6 linked regions of the Homo sapiens genome follow. The protein of the gene in region 5 purifies or fractionates together with the protein of the main gene of each other region. This does not show direct contact. Each region holds a gene or a part of one and is shown on either strand. Other genes may lie near its edges. The genes, in order: ZNF280D, BSN, DOT1L, ADNP2, SCAI and REV3L.

Evidence for each region.
Region 1: the proteins of SCAI (region 5) and ZNF280D purify together in Homo sapiens (affinity purification with mass spectrometry, with the first as the bait; one large-scale study listed by BioGRID). This does not show direct contact.
Region 2: the proteins of SCAI (region 5) and BSN purify together in Homo sapiens (affinity purification with mass spectrometry, with the first as the bait; one study listed by BioGRID). This does not show direct contact.
Region 3: the proteins of SCAI (region 5) and DOT1L purify together in Homo sapiens (affinity purification with mass spectrometry, with the first as the bait; one study listed by BioGRID). This does not show direct contact.
Region 4: the proteins of SCAI (region 5) and ADNP2 purify together in Homo sapiens (affinity purification with mass spectrometry, with the first as the bait; one large-scale study listed by BioGRID). This does not show direct contact.
Region 6: the proteins of SCAI (region 5) and REV3L purify together in Homo sapiens (affinity purification with mass spectrometry, with the first as the bait; one study listed by BioGRID). This does not show direct contact.

Annotation. Positions count from the first base shown.
Region 1 is NC_000015.10:56,730,164-56,735,357, forward strand, and holds the start of ZNF280D (zinc finger protein 280D), read right to left. Parts: upstream 3,347-5,194; 5' UTR 3,295-3,346; intron 1-3,294. UniProt on the Homo sapiens protein: May function as a transcription factor.
Region 2 is NC_000003.12:49,556,674-49,561,417, reverse strand, and holds part of BSN (protein bassoon), read right to left. Parts: intron 1-4,744. UniProt on the Homo sapiens protein: Scaffold protein of the presynaptic cytomatrix at the active zone (CAZ) which is the place in the synapse where neurotransmitter is released.
Region 3 is NC_000019.10:2,166,345-2,171,088, reverse strand, and holds part of DOT1L (histone-lysine N-methyltransferase, H3 lysine-79 specific), read right to left. Parts: intron 1-4,744. UniProt on the Homo sapiens protein: Histone methyltransferase. Methylates 'Lys-79' of histone H3. Nucleosomes are preferred as substrate compared to free histones. Binds to DNA.
Region 4 is NC_000018.10:80,136,372-80,141,115, reverse strand, and holds the end of ADNP2 (activity-dependent neuroprotector homeobox protein 2), read right to left. Parts: coding exon 2,307-4,744; 3' UTR 770-2,306; downstream 1-769. UniProt on the Homo sapiens protein: May be involved in transcriptional regulation. May play a role in neuronal function; perhaps involved in protection of brain tissues from oxidative stress. May be involved in erythroid differentiation.
Region 5 is NC_000009.12:125,013,642-125,018,385, reverse strand, and holds part of SCAI (protein SCAI), read left to right. Parts: intron 1-4,744. UniProt on the Homo sapiens protein: Tumor suppressor which functions to suppress MRTFA-induced SRF transcriptional activity. May function in the RHOA-DIAPH1 signal transduction pathway and regulate cell migration through transcriptional regulation of ITGB1.
Region 6 is NC_000006.12:111,367,704-111,372,447, forward strand, and holds part of REV3L (DNA polymerase zeta catalytic subunit), read right to left. Parts: intron 326-4,744; coding exon 1-325. UniProt on the Homo sapiens protein: Catalytic subunit of the DNA polymerase zeta complex, an error-prone polymerase specialized in translesion DNA synthesis (TLS). Lacks an intrinsic 3'-5' exonuclease activity and thus has no proofreading function.

The sequences.
Region 1 (5,194 bases), on a different chromosome or scaffold from region 5:
GGAGAAATAAATCAAAATTCTAAACATACAATTTTTGATATAAGGCACTGATTAAATCAAGTCATTATTTAAATCACTATTTAAAGCAATCTGAAAATTCAAAGTTTTTAATTCCTTTCTAAAGCAAGAAAAAAACTATTCAGGATTTATATATTTAATTAGTGAATATGTCGTAAGTATTCCTCATCTTCCAAAACTTGCTTTTGGAATAACAAAGTATGTTGTCAATAGAAATATCCAATTTCCTGTCACCTAAAACTACAGTTGACTTTTCATTTGTGAAAACTGCTATTTCAGTGAGCCAATGCTGATTAATAGAACACTGGAATGAAAAAGGACTGGATTAGTAGCCTAACTGGACAGATGTTCCAGTTGAAGCACTTGCAATCCTCCAACATCAAACTACTTCAGAACTTTTCTATTTACCATAGCTTACTATGGCTAAAATGGTCCTAAGCAAACTTTCAAAGAAGGCAAAGCTTTCTGACATCTACTTTCTGCCTCCTCTCTCCTAGTCTCCCTAGGCTCTGATGCCAACACATAGAAGCATTCCAAGTTCCCTAAAGTAGATGGGTTAGTATTTCCTCCAGAATTGTCTCCACTTCTTCTTCTTCCTAACTTCCAAAGCCATACCTAAACGACTGCTCCCAACTGTGTTTATCAGATTACTGCAGGTAAATTCCTACCAACTACTAATGCCAAAATATCACACCACAAATGACTTGCTAATTGCAGAAGGAAATGCTTACAATGGAAAGATAGCTTGTCACCACCTTATCTAAGAGATCAAATTTAGGATTATTAATAAGACAAGCCTACTTTATGTGCCTTTGGATGTTGTATGCAATGAAGCATACTGCATGGCTTATGAAGTATTCCTGTCAAAAAAATATTAAACCTAAATATATTCAAGCCTTTAGACCCAAATCCAAGTTTAGAGAAAACAGAGAGGATAGGGGGAACAAATTTAAACACTATCAGGAGGAACTATCACTAAAACATGGAATATGGGTTATTCTGAAAGACTACAGACCAGGTCTCTTCAAAAGGTCAATTTCGCCCAGTGCTGTGGCTCACATCTGTAATCCCAGCACTTTGGGAGGCCGAGGCAGGTGGATCACTTGAACCCAGGAGTTTGACACCAGCCTAGGTAACACGGCAAAACCCCATCTCTACAAAAAATACAAAAATTAGCTGAGTGTGGTGGCGTGCTCCTGGGTTCCCAGCTACTCAGGAGGCCGAGGTGGGAGGATGGCTTGAGCCCAGGAAGGAGGTCAAGGATGCAGCGAGCCAAGACTGCTCCACAGCGCTCCATCCTGGGACACAGAGCAAGTACCTATCTCAAAAAAAAAAAAAAAAAAAAAAGACTGAAAAGGAATTTTGAAGAAATGGGGGGAAATGTGAATATATACTACACCACGTTAGATTTTAAGGAATATTCTTCACTTTCTTAAGTGTGATTGCGGTATTGTTACACAGAAAAATGGCCTTGATCTCTTACAAAATACATACTGACACACATACAGCATTTAGGGCTGAACTGTCATATCCGTAATGCACTTTGAAACGTTCAGAAAACAGAATGTGAGATAAGTGGAAAAATGCAAATATGGCAAAAAGGTAGCGTTAAAACTAAGTGTTCAAATGGGCTATTTAACTTTCCAATATTTTCGAAAAAAATAGCAAGTTGCAAAGTTAAGAAATTAACTCGAGAATAAAAATATAAAAGCCAGGCTAGATGGTGCACACCTGTAATCCCAGCTACGGAGGCTGAGGTGAGAGGTCAGCTTGAGCCCAGGAGTCTGAGACCAGCCTGGGCAACATAACAACCGCATTTCAAAAGTAAAGTATAAAAATATCAACGAAAGGGCAACTGAGTAATGTTTCTTAAAATCTTTAAGTGAGCCTCCTTGCCTATTCTCATCTACCTCATTCCCACAAAAATGGTATATACTAGAGTTGAGCACCGGAGAAGGAGTCAGAAGACCTAAGGTTCTATTAATATAATTGGCCTTGGCTCTTCCTAGTCAGTGACCTCATTAAAGTCCTCTCCCTGAGGCTCTGTTTCCTCGCCTGCAAAATGATTCCAGCAACCCAGACCACTTCAAAAGGGGCTAAGAGATACAAATCAGGGGTTATCAATGAAAGGCACAAAAGCAAGACACAATTACAACAGTATTTGTAGTGATGTTAAAACATCAGAGGCACACAGCCCTAACAATGGTATAAGCAAACCAGTGCCTTCCCTGGTTAAGTTTCTGCGTGGAGACAGCTGGAGTTGGCACAGCAGTCCCCCAAAGCAGGACACCTTACAGATGCTAAGAGGCAGCTTTTGTGCTTTAAAACTGTCCTTCTAGCGTTCCATTTTATGTTTCATGGCACTAAAAAAGACAAATTCTGTCCAAACCTGAAAATAAAGCCAAATATTTAAGATGACAGATTTTTTTTTTTTTAACAAATCTTCGCAAACAAAGGCCTTTGGCCAAAGGTCTCCCGTGCTTGCAGAAGCGGGTTCACCTTGACGTTTTTCCTCTCCAGCAGATTTCTCCTTAAAAGCGTTAAAACTTGCGATAAGTTGGGAGGAATTCCTTCCATCGCTGGAGCAGGCTAAAACCTCAGAGTGAGATCATTCTTTCCGTCTCAGTAAGTGAACCTTGCAAAGCTCAGAAAATTTTGTCTCCAACTCCACGTTTCTCCTCAGGGCCCTTCTTCTGTAGACAATAACGGGAATTCTATGGCAGAGGAGGGGAGGTCTCTTTGACAAAAATGAGGGTGCAAACGTGGAACGACCGGTCATCTGGGCAAAATGAGGGGCCCTGTGCCTGCAAATCCCGAATCCCCTTTGGTCTCCTTTCCTACGACTGAAGAGACACGGGGGTGGGCTGTGGTGTGAGGACCATGGGTCTTGGCCAAACATCGGCACAAAATGTACCAAAGGGAGTTGCCTCCAGAGAGAAAAGCCAAAACCAGGCTGGGGACAAACAGGCGCACACGCCTGGGAGAGGAGGTGGCGGAGGAGCAGAAGGCGAAGGCCTGCGCGGCCCAGGCCTGCAGCAGCCGAGGCGGCTGCCGCGTCGCGCCGGGATACCTCCTCCCCCGCCTGGGCCGACGCAAGATGGCGGTCCGGCCGCCGCCGCGCAGCCGGTCTCCTCCCCCGCGCTCTGGGCGCTCCCGACGACCCGCGCCGGCCTCAAGACCCCCAGTCCAGCGCCCCCGGAGTGAGGCGGCGCAGGCCGCGCGGGAGGGCCTCTGCCTGCTGCAGCGCAGGGCGGGCGGGGGCGGGGGGGCGCTTACCGTGAGCGGAGCGGATCGGCCTGACTGGAGCCCTGAGGAGGAGGAGAAAGAGGAGGAGGAAAAGGAGGAGCACGAAAAACTACACTGCGGCGACGGCGGCGGCTCCCATTGCGGAGCTGGCAGCCGAGCCGTGGAAAGGGGGGGGCTCTCGTGCAGCCGGCGCGCTGCCTCATGGGTAGGCTCCGGGTCAGCCTCCCCGTGTCCGAGCTCCCTGTCTTCTCGCCGACGCGGGAGGCGGGCACCGGCATGTGCGCCGCGTCGCGGGCCCTCGAAGACCCACGCGCCCCGCCACGCGCCGGTCCGGGGCGAGGGCCAGGGCCCTGCCTCCATGTGGGTGCGAGCTGCTGGCTGGTGTGGCCGGGAGGCAGCCCCAAAATCCGGACTGCTCGGAATTTGCAGGCGAGGAGCCGTGCGTTCCGGGCCCTCCGCGTGTGTAACGACCCCCAGTCCGTTGGCTTGGAAAGTGAAAAGGTCATGGGATACAGCCGCCGTTCGAAAGAAGCAAGGGGCCTGTGGGTCGAAGACTAAACCAGGAGAGAAAAAGGAATCGTCCGTTTCTTTAAATAACGAGCTGATTTTACCAAGTCTGTTTTAAATGTGTGGTTTTGCTTGCGTTCCCTGTCGAGGTCAAATACGAAGAGACGAATCTGTACATTTAGCGTTTTATTTGGGACACAGGAATTGCAAGTTCAGGTTATTTACACATACAGGGTGGTCTTCAGTATGTCAGAAGAACAAAGAGGAGTTAGGGGGTTTTATTTTTTAAAAAAAGTTATCTATTGTTTTTCTAGAAAGTTCGTTGACATTTAGTAAAGTTTTGGGTAGCTGGTTAGTTCTGACTGGTGAGGGAAGGGGCTTGGTAAAGCTTGCCCTACAGCTGCAGCAGGTTCTTTGAGAAGCTAAAACCTGAAGATAAAACCTGTTTCAGGTTACAGCAGGCGGTTTCAGCAGCCAGGCTTGCTGAGAATTCCATTCTTAGAGCAATGTTATGTGCCCTGAGGGCTTCCCCCAGCACTGGCTTCTCCATTCTTTTAGTTGGCTATGACAAGAGTGACCCAATTAGAATGATTAACTTGCACACTCTAATTCCTAACTCTGCCATCTGCATATTAACCTGTAATAGCATTTTTTAAAGTTTGACAACGAGAAGTATAAGAAATTTACAAGAAGAACACTTGCCAAGATACTGCTTGCGTAAATACTTGCTAAAGGTTGTATTCTGATCTGTAAGGAAAGTTTCCTAAACTGATTGTCTTCTCAAGAGCAATGGCATTACTGGTGCAGCTTGTGAGTGACCAAGACTTGAAATCTTGCCTGTTAGGATCCATAACAGACACCCTGTTCAATCACTGAATCTTGCTAATTCATCTTCCTATTCGAATTCAGTTTCTTCTCTCTCATCTGGCTTTCCCCAGTTTTTCTCAAGTGTTTATCATTACTGTAGTCTCCATATTGATTACTGCCCCCAAATTAATCTTCCCCAAAGACCACCTGGATCACTCCTACAGATCTGGTGTACTTGGAGGTAACCATGACCTATCCTTCTCCCACATGGGCCTGGGATCATCTACCCAGCTTTCCCTTTTCTGCTGGCCCTGAAAAATAAACCTTACAGGAAAAGACAGAAAATAGTCAAAACAGCAAACATGGAAAGTTTAAAAATTCCAAAATCTTGGAACATTCTTAAGACATCGTTTTTCAAATGTCCCTAAAGGTTAGCAAAGCATGCTACAGTGTCAGGTGAAATTACAACAAATTTAAAGATCTCGGTTGGCTTTATTGCAATTCTAGATTCAGGCACCACTTCATTCAGTAAAACAGAATAGGTGTTCCCATGAATGGAGCAGATGTGGTTGGCTTTATAGACAGAAAATGGGCTGAAGAAAGAAGAAACAACAAA
Region 2 (4,744 bases), on a different chromosome or scaffold from region 5:
CTTTGGGAGGTTTGGCTCCCCACACAAGCCAGTGGCATTGAAGAGCTCGGGCTCCTCTGGATACAGGGGTTAGTCCCAGATAGGACTGGGTGGGGTGATCCTTGCTGCTGAGGCTCTTGGATCTCCTCAGTGTTTGGGACCAAGATCCAAAAGCCATCCCTTCTATTTCCCCTCAGGGAAAATCTCTTCTTCACCGTTGGCCCTGACAGCAGCCTCACCCACTTTAGGGGCAACCAGGCCTCTCCAGGCCATTCAAGATTTGATCTGATCCTGGGGTGATCTAGAGCTCCCTGGAGGCTTCCCATGTGCCTCCATGTGACCCTCTTGTTAGAAAGAAGTAGGGGCCCCAGGTCTCTGCTAGAGCAAAGCTCTCTTTAGAACCCTATGTGCCCGTAAAGACGAATAATAGGAAGGAGAGATCACAGCAGCCCTGTGGCCAGCCTGGGAGCCCAAGGCACAACACAGATGTGTCAGGGAGTATCCCATTCCACAGCAGAGCTGACCAGAACCTAAAATATAAGACAAATGGGCCAAGAGAATGCTAGGGGGCAACAGACCCCCACTAGAAGCCCGATCTGTACAGAAGGAACCACAGAGAGTGAGACACCAAAATTCTATCACCCCTACCACAGGCAGGAGCCCACAGGCCAGTGTCCCAATTCACTCCACAGCTTCAACCACTGTGCTAGTGAGAGGAGATGGCAGAGGTCCCTCCAGAAAAGGAGCTCGGGCAAGTGCTACAAATGCAGGATCAATACCAGCATGACATGCTCCTGGCACCAAATGAAAGGACTGAGCAGGAGTCCCCCACAGCTAGATTGTTCACCAAGTCCCAGCTTACCCAGAGGGCCTCATGTCCTAAAGTGACAGTCAGCCCTTGCTGTAGGCATGCAGGGCTTAGCCACCATTTTACCATTTAAAAAGTCAGTCCCCAGGCAGTAAGTAAAGTCAGGACAGGCAGGGCCTGCAGAAGCTGAATGGCCAAGCAGGTGGAATAAGAAATAAAACACCTAGCAGAATGTCTGTGATGAGGCAGTCATTCAGTAATGGTAGTCATAACTGCTATTACAGTGTTGCCAACCTACCTTCACAGTTAGCCCCAACTTACTGCACATGGCCCACAGGCTCCAGCAACAGGTTCCCCTCACATAGCCCACACATAGTAGGTCTGGCCTTCCACACCCCCACAACTAACAAGAGGAAAGGGCCCAATTCAGAAATGCAGGACCTGTGATAAGGGGAAAGATTTATTAAGCCCCCAAATGTGAGTAGGAGGCTTCCTACTCACATATGCAGGGAGGGCTCCCCCACACTGGGGTGAAAGGCATGACTTTTCTGGGGGAAAAAAAAAACAACTTTCCTCTGAAAGCTTTGACTTCTTAAACTCAGAACCAAACTGACTCAGAGGAAGGAGATCTTTAGAAAAGGAACAGAAAAGTGGTCCACTGCATTGTTCTTTGGCTCCCAATTAGCCCAAACCCTGGTTCTGCTTTCAGTGAACTCTCAGCCTCTCCATGTCTGAAGCCTTCAATAAACTCTTTTTTAAAAAGCTAGAATTTCTTGACCAAAAGAATAAAATTTGAATCTGATTAGCTTCTAGACAGAATTCTCAGTTTACAAGAAAAACATGGGACAGAGGAACATCTTAAATGACACCACAGGGATGCAATCAGCATAATCCTGAATATGAGAAACCACAGGACAAATGTCATAGTTCTCTAATAATAAACTGCAAGGAGCAAAAAGGAGAGAAAATACATAAAGAAACTAGACAGATGCATCAGACAAATTCAATGTGTAGACCCTGTTTAGATCACAATTCAAACCAATAATAAAAGTAAATTCATAAGACAATCAGAAAAGTAGAATCCTGACTGAATATTTGCTGAGTTTAAGAAGAGATCATTATCTTATTTAGATGTGGCTGTGGTGCTGTGGTTATGTTCATGCAAAGCCCTTATTTCTTGGAAATACAAACTGAAATACTGATGATGAAATTTTGGGATGTCTGGAATTTGCTTCTCTAGGGGGTAGGATGTGAGAGAGATAAATTAAACTCAATTGGCCATAAGTTGATGATGGCAGTGGCTAAGCAATGGGAACACAAAAGTTCATTAGACCATTTCCTCTACTTTCATGTATGTTTGAAATTTTCCATAGTAAAAAAAAAATGTTTAAGATAGCATTTCTCGGCCAGGCACAGTGGCTCATGCCTGTAATCCCAGCACTTTGGGAGGCTGAGGCGGGCAGATCACCTGAGCTCAGGAGTTTGAGACCAGCCTGGCCAACATGGTGAAACCCCGTCTCTACTAAAAATACAAAAATTAGCTGGGTCTGGTGGTGGGTGCCTGTAATACCAGCTACTCAGGAGGCTGAGGCAGGAGAATCGCTTGAACCCGGGAGGCAGAGGTTGCAGTGACCCGAGATCGCGCCACTGCACTCCAGCCTGGGCGACAGAGCAAGACTCTGTCTCAAAAAACAAAAAACAAACAAACAAAAGACAGTATTTCTCCTCCTAATGTCTCCATTACATTTTTACATTTTTTAAATCAACAGCACCTTATTAGTCTTAATGATGCTGTGAGCAACTGTATTATCAAAAGTAGCCTGCTTTCCCTGGAGAAATGCAAAAATGGTTGCCCTCTGGGTAAAATTTTGACATCGTCACCATTCAGATGTAAGGTCACTTTAATTCACACTCCATGACATACCCTCTGTGAGATCCAGCCACTGGGGACAAAGAAGATCTCTAAGTGACAAAGGAGCATTATTTCCAGACCTGGCAATTATGTCCTTTCATTTTATCTTTACAAGTTAGTGCCAGATTTTTCTAGAGGCTGAGTTGGCTGATATAATGTAACAAGTCTGACTAATCCCAGACCAGAGATACTATGCCTGACAAATCCATTTTGAAAAAGGAATTCGGGGTATGGTTCTCAGAGCAGCCTTGCCCACCTTCCAGTAAACAACCAGGTTCTCTGTGCCTAGCTGCCTTTGGCTTAGGGTGTCTGTCTCAATAACATATGGGCCAGGAGTGAAGAGAGGCGACTTTGGCATTGATTACGCATTCTGATGGGCAATGATGGAGAAGGGCCTCTGTTGGCTTTGCCCTGGCTTTCCCCCACCACCCTGCACTCAGCCTCATTCTCTGCTCACTGTCCCTGCCTGTGTAGACCACATTCTTTATGCCATTTATCTCTATCTCTACCTCTCTTAACCCAGTCATTTTTCCAGCCTTACATCTCTACCTCTCCTAAAGCTTAGCTGTGCCTCTCCACTCTTCCCAATTAACAACCCTGTAAGCACTGCTTATTTGACATTTCTCAGATACTGAGCTGCCCACAGTGTCTCTCTTAGGGTTCTTCCATGATTTGGCTCTTCAAGAGCTATCTGACCAACCAGTCTGTGAGGTGCTGAAGGACAGGGAAGCACTATATATCCTTTCCATACCATCCACAAAGCCAATAACTGTGCTTGCTCTTGACAGCTGACAAATACACCTTAGCTGATCGACTAGATATCAATTTGCAAACATCAAAACATGTGCAAGTTGGGCCGGGTGCAGTGGCTCCCGCCTGTAATCCCAGCACTTTGGGAGGCCGAGGCAGGTAGATCACAAGGTTAGGAGATCGAGACCACGGTGAAATCCCATCTCTACTAAAAGTACAAAAAATTAGCTGGGTGCGGTGGTGGGCGCCTGCAGTCCCAGCTACTCGGGAGGCTGAGGCAGGAGAATGGCGTGAACCCAGAAGGTGGAGCTTGCAGTGAGCGGAGATCGTGCCACTGCACTCCAGCCTGGGCGACAGAGCGAGACTCCAACTCAAAAAAAAAAAAAAAAAAAACTGACAGGTGCAAGTCCACAGAGCTGGTGTAAACTAGACAGGCTGCCACTGGTCTACATGGCTCCTTCGTGTAATTATTTTAAAAAGTACTTTCTGGGGTACTGATAAAGTTCTGTCTTGATCTGGTAGTGTGTCACGAGTGTATGTATAAATAAAATCCCATCAATATGTGTGTTCCACTGTACATTAGGCATATCTCCATAAATAAGTAAATGAATTAACGAGTGAATGATGCCCCTTCATCTAAGAGGATGCAGCCTACACCAGGGCACACAGCTTGGAGAGTGGAGCCTGGGTTAGAGTTCAGCTTTCTCCCAAACCAGCACTCCTTGGAAAAGGCACAGATTATATAATTGTACATGGCCACCCTGACACCAGAAGCAGAGAGCCCTTCCTTGAGGGACTCTCCAATGCCCAAAGCTCCACATCATCCCGACGGGCTAAGAGGCACCACTATGGGTGTGGCAGCACTGCTACTCATGGGATTCAAGTCAGGCTCTTCAGCAGCAAATGCTGGAGCCACCCCCTCACAGAGTCCAACTCAGCTCAGTATGAGGATGAAAAGACTAATTCAGCCTGGGATGACAAGGTAATATGGCAATAGCATTTAACTCCCCCAGAATCATCTCCCTTTTACCTGGCCTTCTACCCACCTCTATGAGGTTTCTGACTGCCCCGAAATTCAAAATCTTACTGAAAGCAAATATGTCTTTGTGCTAATGCTCTTTCCTGAATGCCCAGAAGCACATTCACAGGGCTTTTTCCCCATCAATGGGCCAATCTGTTCAGCAGCATCTTAGAACATGCTAAATTTGGCATCAGGTATCTGAGATGCTCTAGTGAGAGGAAGTAGAAGCCATTGCAATACTAAAGGAGAGATAAGCCATGGAGCTGCTGCTCAG
Region 3 (4,744 bases), on a different chromosome or scaffold from region 5:
CAGGAGGCTGAAGGAAGAGAATCCTTTCAGCCTGGGAGGCGGAGAATGCAGTCAGCAGATATCGAGCCACTGCACTCCAGCCTGGGTGACAAAGCAAGACCCTATCCCAAAAATAATGAGAGAAACAACACTCTAAAGGACAGGTTCTGGGAGACTCTTGGAGGGGGACAGGTTCCAGGAGACTCCTGGAGGGGGACAGGTCCCGGGAGACACACGTTCCGGGAGACTCCTGGAGGGAGTGGGCCCTTCCCCCATGCCTTGCCCTGAGGATCCATTTCTCAGTATTCATGGGCATCCCACAGATCGTCCTTTATCATTAACCAAAGGACCTAAGTGTTTCTCGGGAGTTCTGTGAGCCACTGAGGCAATGTAATCAAGCCGAGGTAAGGGTGACGGGAACCTGGATTTACAGCCGACCGGTCACTCAGAAGCACAGGTCACAACGTGAGGCCTCTAACTGGCATGGAAAGTGGGGGAGTCTTGGGGACTGAGCCCTTACCCCGTGGGATCTGAGCCTGTGTCGAGGTAGACATGCTGGAAGTGAGTTGAATCGGGGCTGCCCAGTAGGAAACACAGAACTGATGAATCCCCGGGTACCCGTATCTGGTTCCGCAACTCCTCTGTGTTGACTGCGGAGAGCACAGGAGGAACCGTGTTGGGTCCTTCCTACACCTCACACTGCTGGAAGATAAAAACAGCTCCAAGCAGTCCGTGCCCAGTGAGGCATGCAAAATGCATCAGGTCCAGAGAGACAAGAGCAAGGATTTCAGTCACGCCTCCCAACCACACCAGGGGCAAGCGTGGAAAGGCATCTATCTGTTCCTGCATCCTGGTCTCGGACACTATCTTCCTGTTCCTGGAATCTGTAACACCAAGAGTGATTTGCAGCCATCAATGGCCAATATTACTTGAACAAAAATTCTTTTTTCCTTTATCTAATTTTGTCTGTTTGTTTGAGACAGAGTCTCACTCTGTCGACCAGTCTGGAGTGTAATGGCATGATCTCAGCTCACTGCAGCCTCCCCCTCTCGGGTTCAAGCAATTCTCCGGATTATAGGCAACCGCCACCACGCCCAGCTAATTTTTGTATTTTTGGTAAATACGGGGTTTCGTCATGTTGGCCAAGCTGGTCTCGAACTCCTGACCGCAGGTGATCTGCCCGCCTTGGCCTCCCAAAGTGCCGGGATTACAGGCATGAGCCACCGTGCCTGGGCAACCGTGTGTTTTTTTTAATTAAACTTTTTATTTTAAGATAATTGTAGATTCACACTGTCGAGCTAAAGGAAAGGAACTGGAGCAAAATTAATATAAGTGGAGCATTTATTTGGGCCACATTTGAGGACTGCAACCTGGGAGCACAGGCTCGAATTACCCCAAATATACACTCTGATGAGCAGCAGATAACAAGCAGATTTTTAAAGGAAAAAAAGAGCTGGGCGTGGTGGCTCACACCTGTAATCCCAGCTACTCGGGAGGCTGAGGCAGGAGAATCACTTGAACCCAGGAGGCGGAGGCTGCAGTGAGCCGAGATTGGGCCACTGCACTCCAGCCTGGGAGACAGAGCGAGTCCGTCTCAAAAAAAACTCTCCTCAGAGGCTAGGCTGGAGTGTCCCTGTATCATCTGCAGAGTTTCTGGACAATTCCCCGCCCCAGTACCCCCTGCAACCTCTTTCAGGCCAGCAGGAACAAAGCAGTGTGCATTTGCTATAAAACGGAACACTTGGGTTTTTTCTATTATTCCTTCCTATTTAAAGCGACTCCTTTACTCACACAAAGCTGCCTAAAGGTTAATCTGCCTCCGGGGGAGCTGGGATTACTCAGGACACTCAAGCTCAGAGGTCAGCAGCAGAAAATACCTTCTGAGTCACGGTGGGGACAGCTCACCCCGCCCCGGCTGCTACTCACTGCTGGCTGCCCACTCACCGCCGCCCACAGCCGGGCTCCAGGCCAGGCTGTCAGGCGGAACATGTACTCACTCATTAATGAGAGTCAGAGAGTCCGGACCCTTGGCCAGTGGAGGCCGCCCCTGCCCGCCCACAGCCTGTGAGTCACCAGGGGGAAGGTCCCGTTCTGTGGCCTTTGAAGGTTCTTTCCGAGCAAACAACCAATAATGCCACTTGTGCCCTTCCCACTAGAAGAAGGGCAGGGCCATCCTGCCCTAGAAATACCACGCAGGGCCAGGCACGGTGGCTCATGCCTGTAATCCTAGCACTCTGGGAGGCCCAGGCAGGTAGATGACAAGGTCAGGAGTTCGAGACCAGCCTGGCCAACATAGTGAAAACCTGTCGCTACTAAAAATACAAAAAATTAGCTGGGCGTGGTGGCGGGTGCCTGTAGTCCCACCTACTGGGGAGGCTGAGACAGGAGAATCACTTGAACCCAGGAGGCAGATGTTGCAGTGAACCGAGATCACACCGTTGTACTCCAGCCCAGGCAACAGTACGAGATTCCCTCTCAAAAAAATAAGAAATGCCATGCGGGGCTTGAGAAAAGCGGTTATCCAGGAACTCCCAGGTCATGTAAGAATAAAAATCTCCCTTCCTCCCCCTTGCGTTTGCCAATTGGGCAAACCCCTTCCGAACTGCTCATTTCCGAGCGTGGACAGTTGTGGCTATTTCTGCTTCCTCCTCCGGATGGCCCCTCCTCCAAGCAGCCACCCACAGGTCCCCCAGGGCAGAAGTGGCAGCCCCTCCCTGGGGACCTCAGCTGACCTTGTACTCAGCACAGTATCTCTGCTGAACTTCTATTTATAATCTACTTAACTTCACTGTTTTAAATTTTTTGGTAGAGATGGAGTCTCCCTATGTTGCCCTGGCTTGTCTCAAACTCCTGGGCTCAAGCAATCCTCCCGCCTGGGCTTCCCAAAGTGCAGGGACTACAGGCATGAGCCCCTGTGCCCGGCCTGTCTTCATTTGACAGGTTTCTTGAGACTAAGAATGCTGGGGCGGTGGCGGGGGGAGAATATTGGCTTGTTGTCCTCTGTGCCCCCACAACACTGAGTATTCAGTAGCTGCTGTTGGAATGAATCATGAATAAATGTGCTGCTGCAGCTGCGTCTGGGCACGGTGGTTCACGCCTGTCATCCCAGCACTCTGGGAGGCCGAGGTGGACGGATCACCTGAGGTCAGGAGTTTGAGACCAGCCTGGCCAATATGGTGAAACCCTGTCTCTACTAAAAATACAAAATAAGCCAGGCATGGTGGCACAGGTCTGTAATCCCAGCTACTGGGGAGGCTGAGGCAGGAGAATCACTGAAACCTGGGAGGCGGAGCTTGCAGTGAGTGGAGATTGTGCCACTGCACTCCAGCCTGGGCGATAGAGCAAGACTCTGTCTCAAAAAAAAAAAAAAAAAAAGAAAAGAAAAGAAAATCAGAACCACCCCTCACTTCTTGTGAGAAAGCAAAATTCCTCAACGGGAACACAGAAAATGACAAATGTCACGGCGAGGTTGTCAGAAGGCTGCCTCTGGCACTTGGGCGAATGAAGATGCTGGGCCCGGCAGTGGGCCAACCAGAGCAGGAAGAGGCCGTAGACGGCGCCAGGACCAGCACACCCTGCCAAGCCAGGGCCTGGCCAGGGAGGGAAAGACACGGCACAGTCCCGCCCACCACTAGAAAGCCCGCTCCCGCCAGCTCTCGCCCTTACTATTTACAATGGAGCACTGGCCAGGCAGGGCAGCAGGCATGCGGGCGGGGACACCAGGGCTGCCTTCACGTGAATGTTCACTTCAGTACCAAGGAAAAGGCAAAGGGTCCCTGGCAAGACCACTACCCCAGGCCCCGACGCTGGGTTCCAGTGGGTTTCTTAGCACTGACAAGTGGCAACTGTTGGGATGCAGATGTTAAACAGACGCTTAGCACAGGCCGTGCGGTCCACCCCTGAGAACCTCGCCACGCGAACACTGACTTTCACCAAAAATCCCGCCAGTGGTGTTTAGTGCGGGTTTATTCTAATCACCAAAAATTGGAAACAGCCCACAGTCCTGTGACCCACAGGCAAACACGTCAACAATCTGTGGCCCAACTGTCCAATGGATTTACAGTCAGCAAAAAAATGGGGTAACTTTTGAAACCTGCAGCAACACGGATTTGGCCGCCTGAAAGCCACCAGGACCAAAGGGCAACATGCTGTTGATTCCATTCAGCCAACTTTCTGAGAATGGCAGAACTACAGGTAAGGCCAGGTGGGGAGCAGCCAGGAGCTCCCAGGCAAGCTGAGGATGGGGGCGCCGCAGGGAAGCTGGGGGTTCTGCACCTGGACGGCAGCACTGGTCAGGGCACCACCCAATGAGTTTGTCAAAACGTATAGAACTGTACCCTGCAACCAGCGAACTACGCCCTAGGTGAACTGAAAGAGGAAGATATACGAATAAATGTGAGGCCAGGTGCGGTGGCTCACCCCTGTAATCCCGGCACTTTGGGAAGCCAAGGCAGGCGGATCACCTGAGGTTAGGAGTTCGAGACCAGCCTAGCCAACATGAAGAAACCTGGTATCTACTAAAAATACAAAATTAGCCGGACGTGGTGGCTCATGCCAGTAATCCCAGCTACTCAGGAGGCTGAGGCAGGAGAATCGCTTGAACCCGGGAGGCAGACGATGCAGTGAGCAGAGATGGCACCACTGCACTCCAGTCTGGGCAACAAAAGCAACACTTCCTCTCAAAAAATAAATAAATATAAATAAATAAATGTGAGGCCAGGCGAGGTGGCTCGTGCCTGTAATCCCAGCACTTTGGGAGGCCGAG
Region 4 (4,744 bases), on a different chromosome or scaffold from region 5:
CAACTATTAATCTGTTACTCATTTTTTCATTTTCAAATAATAAATTTCTTACATTTGCAAGAACTCCCACATGTGCTTTTTGAAGCTCAGCTTCTATCAAATCTTAATCTCTAATCCTAAAAAACTAGTAACCAGCAACTAGCATAACATTAAAGACAGCATGAACAGTTCTACCACAGCTAAACTGCACCAAGAAATCAGCTCTTTTACCAGGGTTCTGACAAGATTCTGCCCCTCAGGGACCACCTGGTAATGACATTTTTGGTGGCCACAATGGGGAGAGAGTAGGGACATGCGTGCTACTAGTGTCTAACGACACTGCTCAACATCCTACAGTGACAGAATAGCCACCCACCACAGAGAATTACCTGACCCAAAATGTCAGCAGTGCTGAGGCTGGGAAACCCTAACGTACACAACAAAAGGAAGGTGAGGATTCAACCACGCCAGACGGCAGCTGCCTCCTCATCAGCACCTCCTCCACACTCACCCTGAACACAGCCACAGTGAAGGAAACTTCACAGCACTGACACCCCAGTTACATACCTTCTTTGGCACTTTGGGGGCTACCAGTATAGAATCATCAGGAATCTGTAGTTACACCTATTTTGTGACCCCAGTAATTAGACCTTTTGGGTTATGTTCTTATTTTCACACAAATGACAGGTAAGGTTTTTTTAGAAAATAAATGTGGTATCTATTCCCATATAGAGGTTATCCCTATGATTCACAATAATGTTTTAACTTTTAAAAGAATTAAACAGTTCTATTTGCAGCGGTGTAACAAATTTTAATTCAAAATAGACACTCTGAAAACAATAGGTAAAAAAAAAAAATGTTCAACAAGCTCTCTTTGAATTTACAACAGAGTACACCAACAATCATAAACCAGTTTCACAACTGCCTCAAATATGAACATTATAGCAATTACATGCAAGTATTATATTTTTTAAAATCCACATAGTAACATTATGTTTCTCAGAGGCTGTCACATCCTCCAAATATTTCTACCTAAAGATAGAGTGAAGGGGTTCCTCTGCTGTGTACCACCAGAAATATGACTTACCATCTAAACTGGCTGGTCTCCATGACTGGTTCTGGTGCTTTAAGTTTTAATATCGTGTGGGGAAAAAAACGAGGTTTAACATCCACAGGACAGTGACGACAATGGAGATTCTTTAACAATATGCCATCCCATCGACCCGGACACAGCTTCCAGCCTAAACCAGCTAGAGAAAAGCCCGTTTCTCCACTAAACATGACCTTCAGAAAATGTGGTCAAAGACTTACTGTACCAACCATGGAGACTGAGATCTCAGTCTGTAAACTTCGCCATGTCCCCTGAAACCCTATGCTGAAATTTAAGTTAGTTTTCACACTCAGGGGCAATAATCTTATTCCTGAGTATCATAGACCTTCCCTTTCACTAGTTTATGAGTAGTTAAGTTAGGAGAAGAGTTTTGGGGTGTATTCTTTCAATGTTTATTCTAAAGGCACTAAAAATTTATTGTTTTACCTCTGAACGGAGAAATGACTTAGCATATCAAAAGGGAAAATCTACACTGAAAAATATTTCTGCATCTACAGAATAAATTTATTTGTAAAATAACTCTTGATGTATGAGCTACATACCAGCATACCAGATGTCAAATTCAGTCTACTTTTAACAAATAAAAACATTTGATTTTCTATGAGTTATGGTTAAAAAAAAAAACAGCTATTAGGATAAACCTAAAAAAATACAGATCTAAATTATAATCTATAAGCAAAGATCTTACAAAGAAGTCAGCGTAAGTTAATGCAGTGCATCCTCAGGGAGCCTTATACATACATCACAGGGTTTGTACCCACGTCTCTGAACACTCACTGTACCATCTGCTGCTACAGGGAAAGCTGAAGGAGATCGATGCTTCCACTCGCAGTTAAATCAAGTATTCTGAAAAAGGCTGAAATGTCCTTAATGAAAAAGCAAATTATTTATAGATTTCAGTTTCTTATCATACGATACTGACACTAGTGGGAAAACAAGGCGTGCATGAAATATCAAAAGATTTCATTTACATGACAGAGAAAAAAACCTGAAAACAACTGTTCTGTTACAAATCAAACTGCAGGAAACAATAGATGTGAAATAACTACTGGCTTCCTGGTAACAGGGGTCTCTCCAGCACCTGAAGTAACTCTGCAGAGCAGCACAGTGACCACTGAGGTTGATTCACCAACACAGTGAGGACAACACTGTGAAATTTCAACTGAAAAAAATCTACCTACTACTTTAGAGTTACTTTTTTTTTTTTTTGCAAGTTTTATGGTTCATATTCAAAGTTCAATCTATGTTTCACATTTTTAAGTTCAGACATATCAAAGCCTAAAAGTACAGAAGGCTTGTGATTTTTTATTGCTTTCATGCAAATATACCTTCTTTTTCCAAAAAATGAAGCCACATCAATTTTCCACACCCAAAAGAGTGAGGACAACAGTTCTATTTCCTTTTTACTAGGATATGGTTTCTTATGGAAATAATCTTTAAGAAATTGCTTCTTTTCTTCATAAGAACGGCCTTCATATTTTTTAGGATCTAATGCTAAAATCTGAAGAGCCTCGTCCTTGACAATAGGTCCCTCTGTTCTGCTTTCATTCCTTTGTCTTTTAAAAGGCACAACACTCGTCACCTTTTCTGGACCCGGGGCTGCATCGGCATTTAGGATGGGAGGCTGCTCCTCCCCATGCCGCTGGTCTTCGGCCCCTAAGTGGCCGTCAGGCAGCTTTCTCTTAACAGAAAAACTGGAATCATGCATCACTTCACCACTGACTAAAAGCAGTTCACTGTTGTGAATAAAACCCGGCTGGGCCTGCAGGTCTGAGCTGCTGTCCTTGGGAGCACTTCTGCAGCGCACCAAATGGACGGCGATGGCAGCCAGGGTCATATTTCCCGTGTAGACCCCACAGCAGTGGATGCACTTGAAGGCGGGAGACTTCAGGACCGTGTGGACTGTGGGCATGATGTGGTGCCTCTCCTTCAAATGCAGCTCATAGGCCTCAGTTGTCACAAAGGGGCCAAAGCAAAAGGGGCAGGTGGACACTCGCTTGCCGGTGCTCCCGGGGGTGCCCTCAGCCTGAGGCCTCACCTTCACATACACAGGCACCAGTGACTTGGAGTGTATCCCAGCCAGGATTGCCAAGTAGACTTCCCGCTCCCCAAGCTTCTCCTTTGGCAATATGGTGATGAAATCAAGGTGGGGAAAGAGCAGGTTGCCATTGGCATCGACATCTAATTGAAAACCTCTGTTGCTATAATCCATAGGCAACTTCTTCTTCCCCAGGTGCCTATTCCTGCTGTGCTCTGAAAGACCTTTGATATCATGGAAGGTGCATGGACAGAACAAGCACCCCAAGCCATGCATCAGCAAGTGGTGTATAAGCTCTTCCTCAGAGACCAAGCACTTACAAGACAGACATCGCACCGTTTTCTCTCTCATCCACTTTAGAAATGGTGCACACGCTGCCAGTTTTTCAGGCTCAAGTTTCTCACCAGACTTGGACTCGCTGTGCTTATGCGCTACCTCCATGTGGACCTGGTAGACGTTGGACGGAAAGAGCTCGTTGCAGACAGGGCAGGTCTTCCACTGCTTGGCCTGTTTGAGCACCTGGTTTGTGTCTGCTGCAGAGGAGGAGGCCTGAACAAACACGCTCTGAGCAGCATTCACCAGCACTGGAGGAGAGGGCATGCCGGGCATGGAACCGGCCATTGGTGCAGCTGCACCTGACGGCAGGAGCTGGATGGGCATCTGGGGCGGAGCGACAGTCGCAAGGCCTCCAGGGGGAACCGGCAGAGTGACAGACACGGGGGCCAGCGTGTAGGTTGGAATCCCATTCACTTGTTTCCCTGTAGGGATGAGCTGTCTGAGAATAGAGCCTGATGTCAGGAAGGTGGTGTTCTGCGAAGCACCAGGTCTCACTGGCTGATTCACAGGCAGAATGTTGGTGCCCACAGTCTGGTTGAGTTGCAAGACCCCAGGCCTCACTGGCTGGCCCACAGGAAGAACTCCCGACACAACAGGCTGACTAAGCTGCAGAACACCAGAATTCACACCCTGGTTTACAGGCACAACAGCTGAGGAGGAGACTGTCTGGTTGGGAGAAAGAAGCCCAGACGGGACCACCTGGCCTGCAGAGATAACCCTCAATGGGGCTGTCTGGCCTGGGGGAAGAACCCGTGACGGAGCTGTCTGGCCCACAGGGAGAACTCCTGACTGGACCATCTGGCCAGTAGGAAGAACCCCAGAAGTTGCTGTTTGCCCAGGGATAACCCCTGCAGGAGTCATCTGGCCTGCAGGAGTCATCTGGCCTGCAGGAAGGACTCCAGACGGGACCGCCCGACTCACAGAAAGCACCCCTGGCGAGACAGCCTGCAGGACCCCAGGGGTGACAGAGGGGCTCACAGGAAGAACACCAGGCCCAACAGGTCTGTTTATGGGTCCCACAGGCTGGGTGAGGGGTAAAACCCCAGGGCGAACAGTCTGATTTATGGGGAGGACACTAGTTCCAACAGACTTATTGACAGGTCCGACTGGCTGACTCAAGGGCAACACAGGAGGATTCACAGACTGATGAAGTGGAACCCCGTGAGAAAGAAAGACGGGCTGAGGTGCTGGGGGCTGCAGGGTGAGGCTGTTCTGGCCCACAGGCAGAGGGCTGGAGACCAGAGTCATGTGGGATTGGCCAGCAGCAGGGGGGGAATGAG
Region 5 (4,744 bases):
AGTGGCTCACACCTGGAATCTCAGCACTTTGGGAAGCCCAGGTGGTTAGATCACTTGAGGTCAGGAGTTCAAGACCAGCCTGGCCAACATGACGAAGCCCCATCTCTACTACAGAATGCAAAAATTAGCCAGCCATGGTGGCATGCTCCTGTAATCCCAGCTACTCAGGAGGCTGAGGCAAGAGAATCACTTGAACCTGGGAGGCGGAGGTTGGAGTGAGCCAAGATCACACCACTGTACTCCAGCCTGGGTGACAGAGCGAGACTCTGTCTCAAAAATTAATAATAATAATAAAGTTTCCAAAATGTATATGTCCTACTTTCCAATCAAGCAAAAAGGGGCGAGGAGTTGGTGTTTTTTGTGTTTTGTTTTTTTTTGAGACAGAGTCTTGCTTTGTCACTCAGGTGGGAGTGCAGTGTCATGATTTTGGCTCACTGCAACCTCCATCTCCCAGGTTCAAGCGATTCTCCTGCCTCTCAGCCTCCCAAGTAGCTGGGATTACAGGCACATACCACCACACCCGGCTAATTTTTGTATATTTAGTAGAGATGGCATCATCATGTTGGCCAGGCTGGTCTTGAACTCCTGACCTCAAGTGATCCTCCTGCCTCAGCCTCCCAAAGTGTTGGGATTACAGGTGTGAGCCACCGCACTTGGCCAGGAGTTGTTTTTGGGTAAATTTGTCAAAAGTGAATTTCAAATGTTTTTTCATGACAGAGTAGCACCATGATGATGAGATTTAATGTACTAGAAATGAAATTTACTGGAAATTACACCAGTGAATACATTTTTCTAGATGTGTTTTTTATACAAGTTTAATTTTGGATCCTATCCTAGCATCTATCAATCACTTTTGTTATTGTTAAATTTTTCTGGTATTTCTCCATTTTTGGCTTTTATGACCATTATTTTGCAAATGTCTACAACGTTTTTGAAATTATAGTATGAATATACTAAATGGAAATATTTTGAAACATTTATGGTTTGTATAGTTATACTATCTTAAGGCTCGGTATTTTTCTCACTTTTTTTTAATTCAAAGAAAATTTTTCTAATCAGAAAAATATAAATTAAAACCAAATGAGATATCACCGAACTAGATGACTAAAAACAAAAGAGACCAAGAAACTGATAATAGCATATCCTGGCAACTAGTACAAGAACTGAATATTTCATACTATGTAGAAATAGAAATTGATAGATTTACTTTAGAAAAGTGTCAGGCATTATCTAGTACAGCTCCATATGTGCACACTCTATGACCAAGCATTTCCAGTATTTTCTTATTGATCTGTAAGAGTTCTGAATATATTCTACATGAAAGTCCTTTGTCAGATTTATGTGTTGAACTATCTTCTCCTACTCTTGTCTTGCCTTTTACTCTCTTCTGATATCTTCTGTCTCTTTTTCTCCTTTTCTTTAAACATCTGTTAAAATATTTATTAGTATCTACGCTATGCCAGACGCCCCTGTTCCAGATACTGAGATTCCAGTGAACAGAAGTCCTTAATTTTAATGTAGTCTAATTTATAATTTTTTTCCTTTCTGGTATTAGCTTTTTTGTGTCCTATTTTGAGAAATCATTGCTTACCTTACCTTTCATATTTAGATCTATGATATCTTTGGGATTTATTTTAGTGTGAAGTATGGGTCAGATTTTCTTTCTGGATTTCCAGTAGACCTAGCACCATTTACTAAAAAGACCATCTTTTCCCTGCCACACTGCAGTGTCACTTTTATCATAAATCTGATGTTCAAATATATTTGAGTCTCATTCTGTTCCTTTGGTCTGTTTGTCTATTATGCTGATACTTCTGACTTCATTATTATGGCATTTTAATAGGCCTCGATATATTGTAGTAAATGAAATACTGATTTTTTCTAATTTTTTCTCTTACATTGATTCTGATTCTTATTTCCTTCTTCCTATTTTGAATTTAATTTGCTTAGATAACTGACATTTATTTATTTATTTATTTATTTATTTATTTATTTATTGAGACAGAGTCTTGCTCTGTCTCCTAGGCTGGAGTGCAGTGGTGCAATCTCAGCTCACTGCAACTTCTGCCTCCCAGGTTCAAGCGATTCTCCTGCCTCAGCCTTCCTAGTAGATGGGACTACAGGTGTGTGCCACCACGCCCGGTTAATTTTTTGTATTTTTTTTTTGTATTTATTATTTTATTTTATTTTATTTTATTTTATTTTATTATACTTTAAGTTTTAGGGTACATGTGCACAATGTTCAGGTTAGTTACATATGTATACATGTGCCATGCTGGTGTGCTGCACCCATTAACTCGTCTTTTAGCATTCGGTATATCTCCTAAAGCTATCCCTCCCCCCTCCCCCCGCCCCACAACAGTCCCCAAAGTGTGATGTTCCCCTTCCTGTGTCCATGTGTTCTCATTGTTCAGTTCCCACCTATGAGTGAGAAGATGCGGTGTTTGGTTTTTTGTTCTTGCGATAGTTTACTGAGAATGATGATTTCCAATTTCATCCATGTCCCTACAAAGGACATGAACTCATCCTTTTTTATGGCCGCATAGTATTCCATGGTGTATATGTGCCACATTTTCTTAATCCAGTCTATCATTGTTGGATATTTGGGTTGATTCCAAGTCTTTGCTATTGTGAATAGTGCTGCAGTAGACATACGTGTGCATGTGTCTTTATAGCAGCATGATTTATAGTCCATTGGGTATATACCCAGTAATGGGATGGCTGGGTCAAATGGTATTTCTAGTTCTAGATCCCTGAGGAATCGCCACACTGACTTCCACAATGGTTGAACTAGTTTACAGTCCCACCAATAGTGTAAAAGTGTTCCTATTTCTCCACATCCTCTCCAGCACCTGTTTCCTGACTTTTTAATGATTGCCATTCTAACTGGTGTGAGATGGTATCTCATTGTGGTTTTGATTTGCATTTCTCTGATGGCTAGTGATGGTGAGCATTTTTTCATGTGTTTTTTGGCTGCATAAATGTCTTCTTTTGAGAAGTGTCTGTTCATGTCCTTCACCCGCTTTTTGATGGGGTTGTTTGTTTTTTTCTTGTAAATTTGTTTGAGTTCATTGTAGATTCTGGATATTAGCCCTTTGTCAGATGAGTAGGTTGCGAACATTTTCTCCCATCTTGTAGGTTGCCTGTTCATTCTGATGGTAGTTTCTTTTGCTGTGCAGAAGCTCTTTAGTTTAATTAGATCCCATTTGTCAATTTTGTCTTTTGTTCCCATTGCTTTTGGTGTTTTAGACATGAAGTCCTTGCCCATGCCTACGTACTGAATGGTAATGCCTAGGTTTTCTTCTAGGGTTTTTATGGTTTTAGATCTAACATTTAAGTCTTTAATCCATCTTGAATTAATTTTTGTATAAGGTGTAAGGAAGGGATCCAGTTTCAGCTTTCTACATATGGCTAGCCAGTTTTCCCAGCACCATTTATTAAATAGGGAATCCTTTCCCCATTGCTTGTTTGTCTCAGGTTTGTCAAAGATCAGATAGTTGTAGATACGTGGCGTTATTTCTGAGGGCTCTGTTCTGTTCCATTGATCTATGTCTCTGTTTTGGTACCAGTACCATGCTGTTTTGGTTACTGTAGCCTTGTAGTATAGTTTGAAGTCAGGTAGCGTGATGCCTCCAGCTTTGTTGTTTTGGCTTAGGATTGACTTGGCGATGCGGGCTCTTTTTTGGTTCCATATGAACTTTAAAATAGTTTTTTCCAATTCTGTGAAGAAAGTCATTGGTAGCTTGATGGGGATGGCATTGAATCTATAAATTACCTTGGGCAGTATGGCCATTTTCATGTTATTGATTCTTCCTACCCATGAGCATGGAATGTTCTTTCATTTGTTTGTATCCTCTTTTATTTCATTGAGCAGTGGTTTGTAGTTCTCCTTGAAGAGGTCCTTCACATCCCTTGTAAGTTGGATTCTTAGGTATTTTATTCTCTTTGAAGCAATTGTGAATGGGAGTTCACTCATGATTTGGCTCTCTGTTTCTCTGTTATTGGTGTATAAGAATGCTTGTGATTTTTGTACATTGATTTTTGTATCCTGAGACTTTTCTGAAGTTGCTTATCAGCTTAAGGAGATTTTGGGCTGAGACAATGGGGTTTTCTAGATATACAATCATGTCGTCTGCAAACAGGGACAATTTGACTTCCTCTTTTCCTAATTGAATACCCTTTATTTCCTTCTCCTGCATAATTGCCCTGGCCAGAACTTCCAACACTGTGTTGAATAGGAGTGGTGAGAGAGGGCATCCCTGTCTTGTGCCCGTTTTCAAAGGGAATGCTTCCAGTTTTTGCCCATTCAGTATGATATTGGCTGTGGGTTTGTCATAGATAGCTCTTATTATTTTGAGATACGTCCCATCAATACCTAATTTATTGAGAGTTTTTAGCATGAAGCGTTGTTGAATTTTGTCAAAGGCCTTTTCTGCATCTATTGAGATAATCATGTGGTTTTTGTCTTTGGTTCTATTTATATGCTGGATTACATTTATTGATTTGCATATATTGAACCAGCCTTGCATCCCAGGGATGAAGCCCACTTGATCATGGTGGATAAGCTTTTTGATGTGCTGCTGGATTCGGTTTGCCAGTATTTTATTGAGGATTTTTGCATTGATGTTCATCAAGGATATTGGTCTAAAATTCTCTTTTTTGGTTGTGTCTCTGCCCGGCTTTGGTATCAGGATGATGCTGGCCTCATAAAATGAGTTAGGGAGGATTCCCTCTTTTTCTATTG
Region 6 (4,744 bases), on a different chromosome or scaffold from region 5:
AGTTGGCTTGGTTTTAGGCAGTTTCTTGGAACGTTCGTATTCTTCTTTGGCTTGAAGCCACACTTGAACCAGTTGTCGACTTGGGGCACATTTGCAAGGCATAATCACAATTTTTTTATCTTCAACCATCTTAGGGCTATTACTTGACCCTTTATTGACAACTCCTTGGCCACTGCGAAGGGGTGACCCTGGCCTTGGATTCTGAGTCATTGCTGAGAATGCTGTTTTCCAAAGACGAAGTCCTTCCAAGGAAAAGTCTCCCTCAAACTCAGCCAGATCATTTGCAAGTCGAGTTTCTACCATGAGGAGCCGTCCACCAATCTCCCTATAATAACATATTTTAGAACAACTGTTTTGTTTCAAAGAGCAATTACCAAAATATTTAACTCCATATCCTAGATAAAGTCCCTTTTGGAGTCTCAAAAATGTCCATGTCTATCTTCCCTGCCCCCTCTATATTGTGCAGGTACATTCTATCTTTAGTCTCAATATGCTTTTCCTCACAGGTATATGACTACTACTTAATTTCCTTTGGAAGGTACCATTAATCTTAGGGAGAGAAGGTATTTTTTGTTTTATTTTAATGCCCCATGAAGCCTTCTGTCCTTCAAGGAGATGACACAAACTTTTCAGATTCCTTTCCTCTCCTAATCTTAAAATAAATTTTCCATTATTACCACATATGAATAAAAACAATGAATTTATCATTCAAATACTATGTCCCTGGATATTATTCATAGCTTCTTCCTATATTCTCCAGTATCTGTAGTTTAACAAAGCCAGTCAATTCAAATGAATCTTCGTACTCTCAAATTCCCTTAAACATTAAAAAAAATACCAACTGAGGTAAATTACTCTAATTCTTTCTTCCCATTCCATGGCAGGGATTAACACTGACATAACTTAGGAGCTGGCAGAGCCCACAGGATGCATGGCTTAAATGTTACCAATGCATGAATATGTGGGAAATCACTAATGAAAACAGTCTGGTTTCATTTCCAATAGTTATAAATATTAAGTGAAACCTCTGTCTTTCTCCAATCCCTTGATACTATTTCTGCTTACTACAGCAACATAAAATAATTCTACTTCTTCATGTTAACTTTATTATGGATATAAAGTTAATTCATAGTTTTTTCAATCACTTCTCTTAGGGCATGATTCCCCAAATGTCCCCATCACTCTCTATGTAAAATCCACTAACTGGATCATGTTTTCAGATTTGAAGCTGAAAGAAGAGCATTAGGGCTACTCTGTCTCCTTTATATGAAAAGACTTAAGCCCCTACTAGTTAACTCCATAACCAGCATCCAGCACTGTCCCTGCATCCACTCTTGGCAATGTGAAAAAACAGAAACAGAATTAATGCTGTTGAAGGAAATGAATACACATACCAAGTGACCATACCCAACTCTAATACTAAGGATAGAGAAGTCATAATGAGGTCAAGAATAAAAAATGGTGAGGTGTCGGGAGGCTGAGGCAGGAGAATGGCGTGAACCAGGGAGGCGGACCTTGCAGTGAGCCGAAATCACGCCACTGCACTCCAACCTGGGTGACAGAGCCAGACTCTGTCTCAAAAAAAAAAAAAAAAAAAAAAAATGGTGAGGTGTGGTGAATTCAGTTTTCTTACATATTGTCAGCAGCATGGTAATTGCTATAACCCACTGGGAAAAAAAATCTCCTAATATGTATCAAGAGCCTTAAATTTTTCAGTAATCCTACTTCTAGGGCTATAAGGAAAAACTCCAAAATACAAGAAATGCTTTAAGAAGAAAATGCTAATATCTTCTTAACATACATAATAATATACATAATATCTATAGTGGCAAAATTGCAAACAACCTTTCTGTCCAATAATATATACATGATGCAACATATGCAGCGATTAAAATATTCAAGAAACTCATTTGGAAAATGTTTACAATATAATGTTAAGTGAAAAATTTGGATATAATACTGTGACTATAGTAAGATCACACTTCACAAAACAAAACAAACTAAAAACTATACTTTTTAAAAAAGAAAACAGAATACACATCAAAATATTATGGTGGCTGTTACTACATGGAAAAATGATGTAATTTTTATTTTTTCTTCTTTCATACTTCCTAAATTTTCTATATTGAATATACAGTTTCATTTTTTTTTTTTGAGACAGTCTTGCTGTGTCACCAGGCTGGAGTGCAGTGGTGCGATCTCAGCTCACTGCAACCTCTGACTCCCTGGTTCAAGTGATTCTCCTGCCTCAGCCTCCCGAGTAGGATTACAGACTCATGCCACCATGCCCAGCTAATTTTTGTATTTTTAGTAGAGATGGGGTTTCACCATGTTGGCCAGGATGGTCTCGATCTCCTGACCTTGTGATCTGCCCACCTTGGCCTCCCAAAGTGCTGGGATTACAGGCGTGAGCCACCGTGCCCGGCCTACAGTTTCATATTTCAAAAATATTTTTCAAAAATGATTATTTTTTATTTTAGCTGCAGGACAAGTGTCAAAGTTGGACAATAACAACAACACAAAGGTAATGACTAGCACATAAAGTTTGGTAACTAAAAGTAAATATACCATAATCACTACTAATAACACCAAAGTCCCCAAAATGATGGAAACTAACGTCTAAAGAACAGATTTCATATGCTCCAGCAGTGAAATAAAGAGTTCCATGTGGGTACTAAACAAAACTGTGTGTTGAAAAGGGGCTGGGAGGTGGACATTTCTACCTTTCACTTCAAGTCATTACAGGAGAGAACTTTTATTCTGCATTTCTGATAACCTTTTCTCACCCCTTTATTAAAAAAATAAATTTTATTGTGTATATTTAAGGTATAAAATATGATATTAGTATATAGTAAAATGGTTCTTACAGTGAAACAAATTAACATATCCATCATTTCACATTCTCAACCCTTTCTTAAATGGATTCCTATAGGAATTATTGTGAATCTGCTGGGTAAAAGCCTGGCATTCACTGTCGTGTTTTTTTAATTTAAACTTTTTTAAAAAGATATTTTAACAGCTTTAGGTTGACAGCAAAATTGAAAGGAAGGTACAGAAGTTTCCCATATATCCCTTGTGCCCCCACACATACATGGCCTCCCTCATTATCACCATCCCCTACCAGAGTGGTACATGTGTTACAATCGATGAACCTATGTTGACACATCATAATTGTCCAAAGTCCACAGATTACATTTGGGTTTGTTCTTGGTGTGGTACTTTCTATGGCTTTGAACAAATGTGTAATATTCATATTGTATCTTTCTTTTTTTTTTTTCCCACTGGAGTCAGGAACATGGTACTGCCACAGGTCAGTGCATACATGCAGTGTGTCCTCTGCTGCTTTTCCTATCTCTTTCCAAGATTTAGACTAAGGCAGGGCCTGCCTTAGCAGTTCCAGCCATCCTCTTCTGCTTCTGAATGGATGGCTGAAATGAACTGCCTGCTCTGCAACTGGTTAAGTATATGAGATCATGGACACAAGGGCAGGAACAAGAGCCATCATTTAAACTTTCTGGATTAAGCCACATTACCCAATTTAGCTTTCATCAGTTATGTCCTAACTTGGTGATGAAAGTGGTATACACCATAACTACTTAACTACTGATAAATAAACCAGTACTCTGATTTCTATTTTGCTATTTGCTGTGTGTGTGCGTGCGCTCACATGTTTGTCTATCAATTCCCTGAAGAGATTTTTTTTTTGAGATAAAGTCTCATTCTATTGCCCAAGCTGGAATGCAGCGGCGTGAACACAGCTCACTGCAGCCTTGACATCCTGGGCTCAAGTGATTCTCCTTCCTTAGCCTCCTGAGTAGCTGGGACCACAGGTGCATGCCACCATGCCCAGCTATCTTTTTTTTTTTTTTTTTCTGAGATGGAGTTTCACTCTTTATTGCCCAGGCAACAAAGTGCAGTGGCGTGATCTCAGCTCACTACAACCTCCACCTCCTGGGTTCAAGTGATTCTCCTGTCTCAGCCTCCTAGGCAGCTGGGATTACAGGCACCTGCCACCATGTCCAGCTAATTTTTGTATTTTTAGTAGAGACAGGGTTTCACCATGTTGGCCAGGCTGGTCTTGAACTCCTGACCTCAGGTGATCTGCCCCCCTCGGCCTCCCAAAGTGCTGGGATTACAGGCGTGAGCCACTGTGCCCGGCCTAATTTTTTGTAGAGAGAGAGTCTCACTATTTTGCCTGGGCTGGTCGCAAACTCCTGGGCTCAAGCGATCCTCCCACCTCGGCCTCCCAAAGTGCTGGGATTACAGGTGCACACCACCATACCCAGCCACCTGAAAAAATTCTTAAAAGAAAGGAGAATGGAAACCAAAGTCCATTTGCTAATAACTGCATAAACTATAATAACAATAACAATATAATACAAGATATTGAAACCACATGAAAAGTGGTTTATAATAGAAACAACTTACAATAATCTTCACTTAGAGATATATCAGAGGAATACTTAAAACACATACATGCTCATTTTCAAAACACTTGAAAATGAAGTTCTTTTAAAATGGTATAAAAGTTTAACATTTAAAAATTAAATACCATTTAAACAATGATCATTGTAATCCTTTTAAAGTATCATGACATCTTTACAGTGAGCACCTCTAATCTTTAATGAAGACATAGTGTTAAATAATGGTAGATCCAAGTCAACTTAAATAAATTTCTCTAGGTGTAACCATCCAGTTAGTTTTTGAATTTTCTTAGTAAGTCTGTAATTAGAAATACTTTCCA